2 separate regions of the Homo sapiens genome follow, and region 2 is linked to region 1. The links come from fine-mapping of genetic effects on gene expression. Tissue or cell type: whole blood. Region 1 holds a variant in brackets; the other region holds the start of a gene. All regions are shown on one strand. Distances are from middle to middle.

The links. PIP is the estimated chance that this variant, and not a neighbour inherited with it, causes the effect.
Region 2: CRCP starts here. The variant in region 1 is fine-mapped to the expression of CRCP in whole blood (INTERVAL, PIP above 0.99).

Annotation. Positions count from the first base shown.
Region 1 is chr7:66,244,859-66,252,963 of GRCh38, reverse strand. The region is part of intron 2 of TPST1 (tyrosylprotein sulfotransferase 1); the gene reads right to left. Among named protein-coding and RNA genes, the nearest start is that of TPST1, 44 kb to the right of the region's middle. The variant A/C (reference allele first, on the strand shown) is at 4,285.
Region 2 is chr7:66,110,852-66,118,956 of GRCh38, reverse strand. CRCP (CGRP receptor component) reads right to left here and starts at 4,110. Exons shown (of 6, transcript NM_014478.5): 1 at 3,987-4,110. The coding sequence starts at 3,994. RefSeq lists silencers at 3,321-3,615, 5,044-5,234 and enhancers at 3,202-3,730, 4,268-4,397.

The DNA of each region.
Region 1 (8,105 bases):
TAGATGGTTCCGGGAAACTGGTCATCTTTATAGAAAAAATATGAAAATGAATCTGCACCTCACACAAGAAAATAAATTCCATATTGATTAATAAATTCCAGATTAACATGAAAAGAAATTTGTTTTAAGTTTTGGAAAAAACATGGGAAACTATTTTTATGACCTCAGAGTATGGAAGAATTTTTTTACAAAAAATTCTAAAGAAAAAGATTGGTAAATACAAGTTTAAAACTTAAATTCATCAAAAGATTTTTCTTATTTTTCTTAATTCTGTTAAAGTGAGGTCATTGACAAAAAAGATATTAAAAAGGAAGTTAAAAGATAAGCTACTGGCCGGGCACGGTGGCTCACGCCTGTAATCCCAGCACTTTGGGAGGCCGAGGTGGGCGGATCACAAGGTCAGGAGATCGAGATCATCCTGGCTAACACCCCGTCTCTACTAAAAATACAAAAAATTAGCCGGGCATGGTGGTGGGCGCCTGCAGTCCCTGCTACTTGGGAGACTGAGGCAGGAGAATGGTGTGAGCTTGCAGTGGGCAGAGATCGCGCCACTGCACTCCAGCCTGGGCGACAGAGCGAGACTCCGTCTCAAAAAAAAAAAAAAAAGGCTGGGCGCGGTGGCTCAAGCCTGTAATCCCAGCACTTTGGGAGGCCGAGGCGGGTAGATCACGAGGTCAGGAGATCGAGACCATCCTGATTAACACAGTGAAACCCTGTCTCTACTAAAAAATACAAAAAAATAGCCGGGTGTGGTGGCAGGCGCCTGTAGTCCCAGCTACTTGGGAGGCTGAGGCAGGAGAATGGCGTGAACCCGGGAGGCGGAGCTTGCAGTGAGCCGAGATCGCACCACTGCACTCTAGCCTGGGCGACAGAGCGAGACTCCATCTCAAAAAACAAAAAAGAAAAACAAGTGGAATATGCATACTGCTCATAATCCAGCTATTCTAATCCAAAGTGTATATCTTAGAGAAACTCTTGAAGGAAACACCTTCAAAAATGTCCTTAGCTCCAAACTAAAAACAATCCAAATGTTCATCAATAGTAAAAATGTATAAATAATCTATATTATACCAGAGAATAGTATTTTGGCAATTAAAACTGATGATATAGCTATATACCACAACACAGGTAAATCTCAAAAGAAAATGTTAGGCCAGAGAAAAAAAAAAAGAACCTGACCGAAAAAAACACAGACCATGATCCCATTTATATAAAGTTTACCAACAGGCAAACTAAACAAAGAAACAAAGGAAAAAGGGAAAACATGACAATGAAATATCAAAGGTCACCTCCAAGTAGTTTCAGAGATTATTGTTACTGTAATGCCAGCATTCCCAACCTGCCATGTTAGTTTCCTACTAGAGCTATTCAAATCGGGTGCTTACTTTGCTTCATTGAGACAAACATTTCATGACTTCAAGACTACCTTTGCCCTAAACAAGCTTACAGGAGCATGTGTAAGAACATTAACAAAAGCCTGTGGTGCACTTGCTACTAACCTAGGTGTTTCACACTCATTATTTTGGGATGGGGAGAGGGAGGGGAACAGTGCATAAGCGTTCGACAATAAAAATAACATACTAATAAGTACCACTTTGAACAATTTCTATGTGCCAGGTGCTATTCTAAAGGCTTTGTAGTAATTTAATTCTCACAACTCTATAAATACTACTTACCATCATCTGCAATCGGTATTATTATCATCCTTATTATTATAATAATAAAGACAACAGGTAACATTTTCAACCTCTCATTATATACCAGGCACTTGGCTAAGGGCTTTATAGTCATTCTAACTAAATCCTCACGACAACCCTATGGATAGTTATTATTATCATCCTTAATGGATACTATTTCAGTAAGCCTTTATCCACAGTTTCAGGTAGTTCTCTGCAGTCAACTGTGGTCTGAAAACATTAAATGGGAAACTCCAGAAATAAACAACTCATAAGTTTTAAATTGCATGTCATTCTCAGTAGCATGATGAAATCTAACATTGTCTCACTCTGTCTAGACTGGGATGTAAATCATCCCTTTGTTCAACACGTCCATGCAATGTACACTCACTACCCACCATTAGTCACTTAGTAGCCCTCTGTTATCAGATGGACTGTAGCAGTATCGCAGTGCTTACGTTGAAGTAACTCTTGTTTAACTTAATCATGGCCATAAAGCTCAAAAGTAGTAATACTGGCATATTGTTATAATTGTTCTACTTTATAATTAGTTACTGCTGTTAATCTTACTGTGCTTGATTTATAAATTAACCACAGGTATATATGCACAGGAAAAAACATAGTATATATAGGGCTCGGTACCATCAGTGGGGTTTCGGGCATCCACTGGGGTCTTGGAACATATCATCTGCAGATAAGGGGGATCTAACATATTATCATTCCCATTTCCAGGATAAGAAAACTAAAGGAAAGATGAGATAACCAAGACTAGACAAAACCAAATAACTCACTCAAGGTCACATAATCAATAAAGGACAGTGCTAGGATTTGAACCTATGTCTGTCTGACTCTAAAACGTGTGCTTAGCCACTGTCACACTGTTTTAGTTTGTCTTCATAAATGCTGTAAGTATATACAACAAGAGCTAAAAGTATAGATGAAGACAAAGACCTGAGTCCACAGCCTGGCTCTACCATCTTCCAACTGTGGGACGGAGGACAAGCTCCTCAACTTCTGGGAGCCTCAAGTCCCTCATCTATAAAATTAAGATGTTTAAGGCACCTATGGGTGAGTGTGAAAGGGTAAATATAAAAACTAAATGAGATAAGGCACACAGAGAGCTCAGCATACTGCCTGGCACATAACAAATGTTCAGTAGATGTTGGATGGTATCATTACCATCATCACCATCTTCCCTGTTTTATAGATAAGAAAATGGAGACACGGAGAGAGATAGTATTTGATGCAATGTTACAAAACCAGTTAGTGTCAATGAAAGACTTTAAACAAAGTCTAGCCAGCTTCAAAGTATCAACCCTTTTCCATTTGCCAAGTGTCTCATGAAAGCATAGGAAGTACATCCCAGACAGAGGGGGGCCTTGGAGAGATCTTCCTTAGGGAAAGGAAACCTGAACTAAATCTTGAAATACAACCATGAGTTGGTCAGATGAAGAAATGAAGTGAGAGAAAGGTGTTGCAGGCACAGGAAACAACACATTCAAAGGAACTGATTAAATAAATGGTGTGGCAATAATTGTAGCTACAATTATTTCAGTGTGGCTGCAGCCCAGGCTGTAGGGGCAAGAAAGTCTGAGTCCACAAATGAAGCAAACAAAACGTAGCATGATTTTAAGCAGTGGTTCTCAAAGTGAAATCAGGCCAGGAACATTAGCATCACCGGGAAACCTGTTAGAAGCGCAAGTTCTTGGGCCTATCCCAGACCTCCTGAATCAGAAATTTTAGGTCTTTTAAAGGTTCTGTATGTGATTGTGATGAATGGTTGATGTTTGAAAACATGATTTTCAGCAATGAGGAAATGTAAGGATGTTTTCAAAAACAATGAAATAATTCTTCATTAGACAGGTAATTCAGAAAAGGACCAAGGAGGAACCATGAATTCATGTATAATATCTGGATGGGTACCAACCATAATTCCCTTGATGTGCTTGGCTTTTCTTTGACAGTAGTTAATCAATGTAATAGGTTACTCTACTTAAAGATCCAATTTGCCCTACACTTCATCTTGGCAAAATACTCTGAACTAGGCTTACATTTTAAATCTTAAAAAAAAAAAAGAATTTTTTTAAAAAAAACAGGAATCTTCTAAGTTTTATACCTCATTATGGACTGAATGTTTGTGTCCCCCCAAATTCATGTTAAAACCTAATCACCAATGTGACTGTATTAGGAGATGGGAACTTGGGAAGTGTCCTTATTAGTGCACTTACAAAAGAGGCCAGGGAGAGATTCTTCACCTCCTTTACCATGTGAGGACACAAGGTGCCATCTATGAACCAGACAGCAGGCCCTTACTAGATGCTGAATCCATCAGTGCCTGATCTTGGACATCCCAGCCTCCAAAACTGCGAGAAATCAACTTCTGTGTTTGTAAGAACCCAGTTTGTGGTATTTTGTTATAGCAGCCCAAATGGACTAAGACATACCCTAAAATGCCTATTAAAACTAAATGTTTTGAGCCAGGCACGGTGGCTCACGCCTATAATCCCAGCACTTTGGGAGGCCGAGGCAGGCGGATCATGAGGTCAGGAGATCAAGGCCATCCTGGCTAACATGGTGAAACCCCATCTCTATTAAAAACACACACACA[A/C]AAAAAAAATTAGCTGGGTGTGGTGGCACGCACCTGCAATCCCAGCTACTCAGGAAGCTGAGGCAGAAGAGTCACTTGAACTCGTGAGGCAGAGGTTGCAGTGAGCCGAGATCATGCCATTGCACTCCAGCCCAGAAGACAGTGCGAGACTCTGTCTCAAAAAAAAAAAAAAAAAACACTAAATGTTTTTATAAACCAATATAATCCCAATTAAAAGTGTATCAGTTTTGTAAATTTTACACATTACAATCAATGTTTTTCTTTTAAAAACAAAATTGTAGTTTTGCAATTCCATGAGCTTCACTTCAGTTTTCTTTGTTAAATCCAACCAAAATTAAATGCTGCCTAAAGGAGGGCCACTTCACTTCCAAGTACATCATCTACCAAGGTTCCGAACAAGATTTCACTTGAAAAAAAGGGTGCTCCACTAATAAGAGAAGTCTGAAGGCAACTGGCTTAAAATTCAATATCTTTAGCTTAAAATATAAGGCCCTCCAAAGCCTGGTCCGCATCATTTCTCTCAAACCTTGTTTCACACTACTTCCTGCCTGGAAATGAACTCTCTAGCAAAAAACACCACATTGTTACTCATCTTTGTTAAGGTGTTCATATTGTAACTTCTCAATGATTATTTCCTGATTTGGTTTTGTTTTACTTATTTTTCAAAAATATATTTTTCAAAAATATATTCACCTATGGGAAACAAACACCATGTTCTAGGTCCAGGTGGGACTAAGCTTAGCTGACTTCCATTATATGGTCAAGAGGGTAGGGTCCATAGGTCAGGCATAACAGGGCGTAGTTGTTCCTTAGGTCCTTTTGAGGCCCTGGGTTGGGCCAGGAGTGAAGCCACAAGGAGTCCTCCATACTACCTCTTCCCTTTGAATTCTGTAAACCACAGTTAGGCACAGGCTTCTCCCAGGAGTAACATTTCTTGGGTGGCTCATTGGCTAAGGAAAAGGAAAGACATTCTGGACAGTCAAGGAAGAACTACAGCGCCTTAACCATGGGTCACCCAGGGAGCACAATATTCCCTAAGTCAAAACTAAATGCGCTTCCCTTTATCTGTTGATCATCTTGGATGGCTGCCACAACAAATAATTATCTGACTAAAATGTCATACCAAGCTTGAGGAAACCCTTCTTTAGGGCTCAGTTTCATGACACATTGCCCAAGATGACCTCTCTGAACACCTCAGACTGGGTTAGGCACCTCTCCTTGGTTTTCCATAGTTCTTTGTTGTTGTTGTTGTTGTTCAGAGTTTTGCTCTGTCACCCAGGCTGGAGTGCAGTGGCACGACCTCAGCTCACTGGAACCTCCACCTCCCAGGTTCAAGTGATTCTCCTGCCTCAGCCTCCCGAGTAGCTGGGTTTACAGGCATGGGCCACCACCCCTGGCTAATTTTTGTATTTTTAGTAGAGATGGGGTTTCACCATGTTGGTCAGGCTGGTCTTGAACTACTGCCCTCAGGTGATCTGCCCACCCCAGCCTCCCAAAGTGCTGGGATTACAGGTGTGAGCCACTGTGCCTGGCCTCTTTTTGTTTGTTTTTAATTATTCACCAATGAAGAAGCAGTGGTGACCATAGTTCTTAACCCTGCATTATATATGAATCTAAGTCTTCTATTAGATCATATGTTCCTTTAAGGCAAAGACCTTTTATCTCAAGGAGCTAACACAGTGTCTGGCACATAGTAGGTGCTCAATAATGTAGCAGAGACTACTATCTGCCTATCCCAATATCCAATTGATTTTTCTTAGTAAAAGGAACCCCAGTTATGGCCAGTGAAAAGCAAGAAGTACTACCTGGAAGCTTCTAAGAAATATCCTCAAAAAATACTAAACGCCATTTGTTTTACACACATCCACCCCTGCTGTGCTGCTTAGAATGTAGATGAAATGACTGGCGCTCCAACTTGGATCCTGGGGATGATGGAGACAAAAGCTGGAAGCAGCCTAAATGCCAGATGACTGCAAAGCTGACAAAGCAGCCCTGGTCTGCCTTCTACATAGTAGTCATTATTTGGAAATCTTTGTTATTTTGGATCTCTACTATTTGTAGAGAAATCTAATCAAACTAATAAATGATCTGATATCCAACTTCTAATTTTTGCTACCAATTGCTATATTCTCCAAGAAAAGTACAAATGTTGCCTTATTAATTCATGTTCTGGTTCTGCTTCTTCTCAATCTTTCCCTGACACACTTTGAAATGCAATGTTTCATCAGCTCTCTGATTTCCTTTCACAGCCCATTTTACTCTGTCACTTGTATCCCTTGTTTATTCAATTCCTCCTCTCCAGCTAAGATGTCTCAGTCACTTCTCTCTTCAATATAGCTTGTAAAAGGAGGCTGGGCATGGCAGCTCACAGCGGTAATCCCAGCACTTTGGGAGGCCATGGCAGGAAGACTGCTTGAGGCCAGGAGTTCGAATCCAGCCTGGGTAACACATAGTGAGACCCTGTCTCCACCAAAAAAAAAAAAAAAAAAAAAAAAAAAAATTAGCCAGGCATGATGGCATGCACCTGTAATCCCAGCTACTAACAGGAAGCTAAGGTGGGAAGATCATTTGAACCCAGGAGTTCAAGGCTGCAGTGAGCTACAATCTTGCCACTATACTCCAGCCTGGGTGATGGAGCAAGACCCTGTCTCCAAAAAAAAAACCAAAAAAGACACAACCCCAATAGCCCAATAGCATCCTTAGGCAGTGCCTTCACAAAGGAGAAGTTTTCACAAATAAACAGACTTGTTCTCTGATAGCTTCATGAAAACAAAAACAAAAACAAAACACCACATGTAATATTTATAAAATTCTTCTGGGATATTTCAGACTGAGCTAGTAGAGCTCAGGTGATCCTAATTTGCCTGCTGTTAATTTTCCATGCTATTAATGCTCATATCTTTGTGAATATGGTCTGTCATTCTCTTCACTTGCTCAAAATATTCTTGTTATCCTTAAATTTCAGAAGAATTTCAAGTGGCTATTGAGTTATCTTTCTGTTAATCCCATAAGACATAAGAATTTTAAGTTTCCAAACTGACAAAGATTCTTTGTGTGACCAAACTTCAGTCAGGCTCCTGAACCTTCTCCTAGGACCATCTGTGCACTTCTTTATAAAATCCAGTTTTAGCAAAGAACCCTGCTAAGGCAGTTTAGCAAGAACCTCCTACCCTTGATATCTAATCACTCTCAGGATCTGATCGGGTTTCTCATCCTCCACCACCCTCCAGGTGATGTCTGATCACCCCGGCCTGTCTTCAGTGAGAATCCTATCAGGTAAATTTAGCCAGAATGCCCCTGACCCCTGATGTTTCCTCGTAGTAATTTTCCATCCACTGACCCTCACCTTACTCTCTGGCTACAAATTCTCACTTGCCCATGCTGTATTCAGAGTTAAGTCCAATCTCTATTCCCCACTGCAAGACCCGACTGCAGTGGTCCCTGTACCTCCTGCAGTGGTGCTAAATAAACACTGCCTCATGCCTTAGCAGGTATCACTGAATAATTTTTTCTTTAACAAAACTAAATTTCACTTTCTATATTAAAAAGAAAGTTATGAATTTAATAAATTACTAATTATTCTTCCTACTTCCTCAAAAATGTCTCCATTTCCAAAAACCTTTTTACATTATTTTCACTCATTTATTCAGTCTTTCTTTGCTTTTGATCTGATTTAGAGGATTTTTTGTCTGCTTTACTTATTAGAAGCTGTAGGGTGTCAGTTTTCATGTTCTTATTTGTTCTCTTGTACTTATCACTACTATTATCTTTTTCATTCTAATTTATTTGTGTTTAATAGTTGCTATATTCTCTTTCTGCCC
Region 2 (8,105 bases), 130 kb after region 1:
CAGACAGAGCTTCTGTTTTCTGAGGCCTGCTTCTGAGGCTTAGAGTGCCCCAACATTCTAACAAAAGACTGTCTTTCACCTTTACTGCTCTGAAGCTGTCCCAAGGCCGCTTCAGGAACCTTGGACAAAGGACAAATACTTTAACAAAAGTTATGCTTACTGTTTTAGTCATTTAGGAAGTAATAAAGGCTATGGTAGTTATGAGCCAGGAACCATGGACAAAAACCGGTATTACATGTCATGGTATCATAATAAGTCATCTAGAGATGATTTAAAGTATATGGGAGAATGTGCATAGATTATATGCAAATACTACACCGTTTTATATCAGGGACTTGAGCATCTGTGAATTTTGGTATACGCAGGGGGTCCCAGAACCAATCCCCCAAAGACGCTGAGAGATGACTATATTTATGAAGCTAATAAAGTATTGTTATATTACTTTATTGAACAAGTATTTGCTGAATGCCTACTGTGTGCCAGATGCAATGCTAAGCACTAGGTGAACAGACACTGGTCCCCACCCTCCAAACAAGTAAACATACATTTATTATTGCAACTTGTAATTATTTGAGGGAAAGTAAATCAAGGTACTATGAAAGACAAAAAGAACTTATGTTAGTTAGACTTACTGAAGACGAAAGGCAACTTTGAAAAGGGACACAACCTTCAAGAACAGGTGGCCAGGTGTGGTGGCTCACGCCTGTAATCCCAGCACTTTGGGAGGCTGAGGCAGGCAAATCACCTGAGGTCAGGAATTCAAGACCAGTCTGGCCAACATGGAAACCCCGTCTCTACTAAAAATACATAAATTAGCTGGGCGTGGTGGCACACGCCTGTAATCCCAGCTACTTGGTAGGCTGAGGCAGGAGAATCTTGAACCCTGGAGGCACAGGTTGCAGTGAGCTGACATTGCGCCACTGTACTACAGCCTGGGTGACAGAGCAAGACTCCATCTCAAAAGCGAACTAAAAAAAGAACAATAAAAAGAAGAGAACAGGACGAGGGCGAGGAGGAAAGTATACCAGACAGAGGGTACCACAACGCAATGGTCCTCAGGAAGTGCTTAGAAGGTTAGAGGAGAAGGAAATACCTGTCAGTGGAAAGTGTGTGTCTGGGAGGTTGGGAGAGTGGCAAGTGGTAAGGCTGGGGAGTAGGTGAGGTTTTACAGGGTCTTGCAGGTCCTGGTAAGAGATGGAGATTTTCTCTAAGTACAATGGAAAGTCAATGAAGGGTTTTACCCAGGAGCGACATGTTCCAATCATTACTTAAGATCACTCCAGTTGCCATGTGGAGAACAGAATGGAGGCTGGGGAAGAGTGAACACTCAAAGGCTATTGCTTAATCCAGCCCAGAGGTGATGGACTACAAAGCTAACATTGGAGATGGTGAAAAGTAACTGCATTCAAAATATATTCTAGGGTGGAAACAACAGGACCACTGATGGACTGGATTTAGGGAGTGAAGAGAGAGGGCTAGATTTTTGGTCTATGCAATTGGATAGATGATGAGAAGAAGGTTAGAAACATACCTTTGAGAACCATCAGCACATAGATGGGTGAAATGACAGAGTGTGGAGAGAAAGGGTCCCAGGACTGAGCCCTAAGATACCACTCAACACTTAGACATCAAGCAAGAGAGGAACGGGACCCAGGGAAGGACACTGAAGTAGTCCTTGATGTAGGAGGAAATACGCAAAGGAACATACATCACAAGAAAAGGAAAGTTTCTAGAGTTTCTGTATTAACCACTGCTGAGAGATCAAGAAAGTTGAGGCCAGAAAATCAACCTCTGAATTTGACAAGATGGAGGGATCAGGTTTTTTTTTTTTTTTTTTTTGAGACAGTCTTGCCCTGTCACCTAGGCTGGAGTGCAGTGGCACAATTTGGTTCACTGCAACCCCTGCCTCCCGAGTTCAAGCGATTCTCCTGCCTCAGCCTCCTGAGTTACTGGGATTACAGGCGCCCACCACTACACCCAGTTAATTTTTGTATTTTTAGTAGAGAGGAGGTTATGCCATGTTGGCCAGGCTGGTCTCAAACTCCTGACCTCAGGGGATTCGCCCACTTCGGCCTCCTAAAGTGCTGCGATTATAGGCATGAGCCACCACGCCCCGCTGGTTCAGGTAATCTTAACAGTCATTCCCGTAGACCAGTGAGGATGAAAGCCCAACAGAATGGCTGAGAGAATGAGGGGCTAATCAGCACTTTCAAGAAGTTTTGTTGGGATGGGAAGCAGAAATGGAGTAAGAGGGGGACATGTATGTGGGGACGGAGGATTTTCTAAGATGAATTCTCTAAAGCAGGGTTGTATGCTCACAGGAAATGCTCTAGTAAAGAGGGAAAAATTAGTAATGATGGCTTGGACTAGAGTAAATTATATGAATAGTTTTTTAGGTTGCAGATGAAATCCCATCAGTGGGTTGCAAAATTAATTCAGTGGTTCAATTTTTTTTTTTTTTTTTTTTTAAGACAGAGCCTTACACTGTCACTCTGGCAGGAGTGTAGTGGCTCTATCTCAGCTCATTGCAGCCTCCTGGGATCAAGTGATCCTCCCATCTCAGCCTCGTAAGTAGCTGAGACTACAGGCATGAACCACCACACCCAGCTAACTTCTTAATTTTTTGCAGAGACAGGGTCTCCCTATGTTGCCCAGGCTGGTCTCCACCTCCCAGGTTCAAGTGATCCTTCTGCCTAAGCTTCCCAAAGTGCTGGGATTGCTGGTGTGAGCCACCACGGTTGGCCCCATTCATATTAATAAAAAATAGACAATATGAGAGTGTACGCCACACATTATTGTTTCATGAGCCTTTCATTTCAGTTACACAGACATATTGTGTTTAAAAAAAAATCGGAAGAGGCCAGGTGAAGTGGCTCACGCCTGCAATCCCAGGACTTTGGGAGTACAAAGCAGGAGGATCACTTGAGCTCAGGAGCTGGAGACCAGCCTGGGCTGTAGTGAGACCCTGCATCTACAAAACTTTTTTTAAAAAATTAGCGGTGAGTGATGGCGTGGGCCTGTAGTCCCAGCTACTGAAGAGGCTGAAGCAGGATTGCTTGAGTCCAGAAAGTGAGGCTGCAGTGAACCATGATTACACCCCGCCTGGGGGACAGAGCAAGACCCTGTTTCTTAAGAAAAAACAATTAATTAAAAATGTAAAAATGTGAAATGCCATAGTACATATAACCATTAAACATGAGGCAAAAGAACATAAAGGAAACTGTATCAAATAATCAGTTCAAAGAGAACACAAGATAGTAATACCTACAAATTAATATCAACCGTATAAAGCCCACATTCAGAGTAGATGCAAAATCTTCCATTTGCACCAGGCGCAACGAGCAAGCATGGAAAAGACCACGTGGAGTTAAACTGTCAGAAAATCTTTTACCCTCGCCTTGCACACACACCCACACACCCCCTGCTGTTTCTCTGGTCCCAGTCCTGGTTCACGTCCTTCCCTTCTCCACCCCAAAACCAGCCCCTTCCCTCACAGTGTTTACTGCTCCCATCAAATTCCGAGGGCAGCTCTTCCGAGGGCTCTCCAGGGGCCTACAGCTGCAAGCAGAGCTCTACCCGGCCCTGATTCGTCTCTCCTCCACCTACTTTCAGGGCGGACAGACTCAGGCCTTTATAGCCTTCTAAGTCCGGGGTCGGATACCAGACTGGGCTCCACCCCCGCACTGTGACCCAGAAACGCTGGTAAACGAATGAGAGAAGGAGGGGGCACATTGAAAGGCAGCCGGACACGGAAGTGCTCGGCCCCGCACCAGACACGGCGTGGAGGGGAAGCGAAGGTTCGGAAGGGCAAAGCGAGAGTCCCGTTCGTCCCCGTCACCACCCCGCGGCCCTCCCGGACAGGGCCGGCCCGCTGCCCTCACTCCCGTACGAGGGTCGCCCAGTCCCCACGGCTCTCGGCTCTCAGCTCTCAGCGGTCAAACCGTTGGGCTCCTCGGGCGAAAAGGGACGCGCCCGAGAAGACTTACACTTCCATGACGTCCCGCCTCGTCGCCCCTAGCTGCCAGCAGACAAAGAACCTCACACTTCACAGCTGTCTCCGCCGCCACCAACAGCGCCAAGGTGCCAGCTCCGCGCGCCAAGGTGCTCGCCGGGATCGCCGCGCTGCATGCCGGGAGCTTGGCGGACCCGGAACCTCGCGCTGCGCGTTCCCCTTTTTCGGGGGGCAGGGTGGGGGAGTGTCCCTGCATCCTTCCACCAGGCCGATTTAAGACTGCTAAGCGTTTGCGGACAGGATTATCTTGTGTTTTCTTTTCTTTTTTTCTTTAACCTTTTTTTTTTTTTGAGACGGAGTCTCGCTCTGTCGCCCAGGCTGGATCTCGGCTTACTGCAACCTCCGCCTCCTGGGTTCAAGCGATTCTCCTTCTGCCTCAGCCTCCCAAGTAGCTGGGACTACAGGCGCTTGCCACCAAGCCCGGCTAATTTTTTGTGTTTTTAGTAGAGACGGGGTTTCACCGTGTTAGCCAGGATGGTTTCAATCTCCTGACCTCGTGATCCGCCCGCCTCGGCCTCCCAAAGTCCTGGGATTACAGGCGTGAGGCACCGTGCCCAGCCTCTTTTTTTCTTTTTTGAGACAGAGTCTCGCTCTGTCACCCAGGCTGGAGTGCAGTGGCACGATCTCGGCTCACTGCAATCTCTGCCTCCCAGGTTCAAGCAATTCCCTGCCTCAGCCTCCCGAGTAGCTGGGATTACAGGCGCCCGCCATAACGCCTAGCTAATTTGTGTATTTTTTAGTAGAGACGGGGTTTCATCATCTTGGCCAGGCTAGTCTTGAACTCCTGACCTCGTGATCCACCCGCTTCGGCCTCCCAAAGTGTTGGGATTACAGGCGTGAGCCACCTCGCCGGGCTCTGTCTGTTTTCGTGGTCTAGGTTTTAACAAAGTATTAATCAGCTGAAGTTGTGAGACGTGATCGGGTTAGTGGGCCTTTGCATGTTAAAATCCCACCTCTCAGAGAGTAGTGAGGCTGGTGGCATCTGGGCTGCCAGAAACATTGCAGTTTATTTATTTATTTTTTAAGAGACAGGGTCTTGCTCTGTCGCCCAGGCTGGAATGCAGTGGTGCAATCAGAGCTCACTGCAGCCTTGAACTCCTGGGCTCAAGCAATCCTCCCACCCCAGCCTGCCAGAGTAGCTGGGACCACAGGTGCGCTCCGCTACACCTGGCTAATTTTCTTTTTTTCTTTTTCTTTTTCTTTTTTTTTTTTTTTGAGATCAGTCTCACTCTGTTGCCCAGGCTGGAGTGCAGTGTCGTGATCTCGGCTCATTGCAACCTCTGCCTCCTGGATTCAAGCAGTTCCCTGCCTCAGCCTCCCCAGTAGCTAGGATTACAGGTGCCCGCCATAATGCCCAGCTAATTTTTGTATTTTTTTAGTAGAGACGGGGTTTCACCATCTTGGCCAAGCTGGTCTTGAACTCCTGACCTTGTGATCCACCCTCATCAGCCTCCCAAAGTGTTGGGATTACAGGCGTGAGCCACTGCACCCAGCCACCTGGCTAATTTTCTAAAATAAAATTCTTTATTGTCCAAAGAGTCAGCTACAAAATTTTTTAATTTTTTTGTAGAGATGGGGGTCTCACTGTGTTGCCCAGGCTGGTCTTGAACTCCTCGCCTCAAGTGATCCTCCCACCTCCAACTCCCAAAGTGCTGGGATTACAGGTGTGAACCACCACAATAGCCTCTGTTGCCTACTTTGTAAATAATAAGGGTGTTAAATAATCCTTATAAAGTTCCTGGCACTTTATTAATTACTGTGGCAATACAACCATGACTCTCTATGAGGTACATTGCATTATTATTGACATTTTATAATTGAAGAAACTGAGGCAGACTTGGAGAGATTATGATTTACCAAAAGTCACTCATCTAGGAAGTTGTCCAGTGGGTATTGAACCCCAGCCAATCTGAACATATACAACAGATGCATTAACTAGAGACTGATGAGTGGATGAATAAAATGTGCTACATTTGTGCAATGGAAAACTACTTAAAAAGGAGGCTGGCCGGGCACGGTGGCTCACGCCTGTAATCCCAGCACTTTGGGAGGCCGAGGCGGGCAGATCACGATGTCAGGAGATCGAGACCATCCTGGCTAACAGGGTGAAACCCCGTCTCTACTAAAAATACAAAAAAAATTAGCCGGGCGTGGTGGTGGGCGCCTGTAGTCCCAGCTACTAGGGAGGCTGAGGCAGGAGAATGGCGTGAACCCAGAAGGCAGAGCTTGCAGTGAGCCAAGATCGTGCCACTGCACTCCAGCCTGGAAGACAGGGCAAGACTCTGTCTCAAAAATATAAAAATAAAAAGGAGGCCAGGCTTGATCTCAGCACTTTGGGGAGCAGAGGCAGGAGGATTTCTTGAGACAAGGAGTTCCAGAGCAGCCTGGGCAACATAGCTAGACCCCCTAACTACGAAAAGTTAGCCAGGTGTGGTGGTGAGCACCTCTAGTCCCAGCTACTGGGGAGGCTGAGGTAGGAGAATCGCTTGAGCCAGAAGGTAGAGGCTGCAGGGAACTATGATCACACCACTGCACTCCAGCCTACAGAGTGAGAGACCTTGTTGCAAAAAATATATATAGACAGACTGATAGATAAATGCTGCAAGATGGATAACCTCCCAAAACATGATGCTATTAATAAGTGAAAGAAGCCAGACACAAAATAATATATATTGCCTGGCCAGGTGGCTCACGCCTGTAATCCCAGCACTTTGGGTGGCTGAGGTGGGTGGATCATCTGAGATCAGGAGTTCAAGACCAGCCTGGCTAACATGGGGAAACCCTGTCTCTACCGAAAATACAAAAATCGCCAGGCGTGGTGGCTCACGCCTGTAATCCCAGCACTTTAGGAGACTGAGGCAGGCAGATCATGAGGTCAGTAGTTCGAGACCAGCCTAGCCAACATGGTGAAACCCCGTCTCTACTAAAAATACAAAAAGTAGCTGGGTGTGGTGGGGGGCACCTGTAATCCCAGCTACTCGGGAGACTGAGGCAGGAAAATTGCTTGAACCCAGGAGGCGGAGGTTGCAGTGAGCCGAGATCACGCCACTGCACTCCAGCCTGGGTGACAGAATGAGACTCCTTCTAGAAAAAAAAAAAAAAGAATACATATGGTATGATTCACTTTATATAGAATGTCCAAGAAGAGGCCAATCTATGGATACAGACAGAAGGCTAGGTTGGGGGCAAGGATGGGAAGTGATTGCTAATAAGTAGGGAGTTTCTCTTTGGGAAACAGAAATTGTCTAAAATTATTATAGATGGTGGTGGTGGTTGCACAACCCTGTGAATATACTGAAGACACTGAGTTGTATACTTTAAATGGCATATTGTACAGCATATTAATCCTATATTAATAAAGCTGTTAAACATTTTTTACTCTGCTGAGTGTGGTGGTCCACACCTGTAATCCCAGCACTTTGGAAGATGAAGGCAGGTGGATCGCTTGAGCCCAGTTTGAGACCAGCATGGGCAACATGGTGAAACCTCATCTTTACCAAAAAAATAGAAATTAACCAGCTTGATGGCTCGTGCCTGTAATCGTAGCTACTCAGGAGGCTGAGGCAGGAGCATCGTCTGAATCTGGGAGGCGGAGGTTGCAGATCACGCCACTGCACTCCAGCCTGGGTGACAGAGCAAGACTCCATCGCAAAATAACGACAACAAAAAAGTCATAAAATGCCACCCAGACCCAGCTGGCCTAGTTAGTGTGGAGAATTCCCTGTACCTTCGCTGAGGAGATTGGGCCCCACAAAGAAATGCTAAAGATGCCCCTTGTGTTATTCACTCAACAAGTATGTAGCCATGGCCCATCGGGGGCTGATGATACAAATGTGACTAACACACACCCTCTGCACTGGCTAGCTGACAGCCTAGTTGAGGAACCAGCTCTGGACATAAATAACCACAATGCATTGTGTTTCGACGCGATGGGCAGGGGAGGGAATGACTAATGAGGTGGAGAGGCGTCCCAAAGCCACGGGCCTTTGAAGTGGGTGAGGGAAAAGCACACGAGGCCGAGGGATTGGGTATGGGCTTCAGTGAAAAACAGCAGTGCCTCTGACAGCCCCCATGATAAAATGGCTCAGGTGTG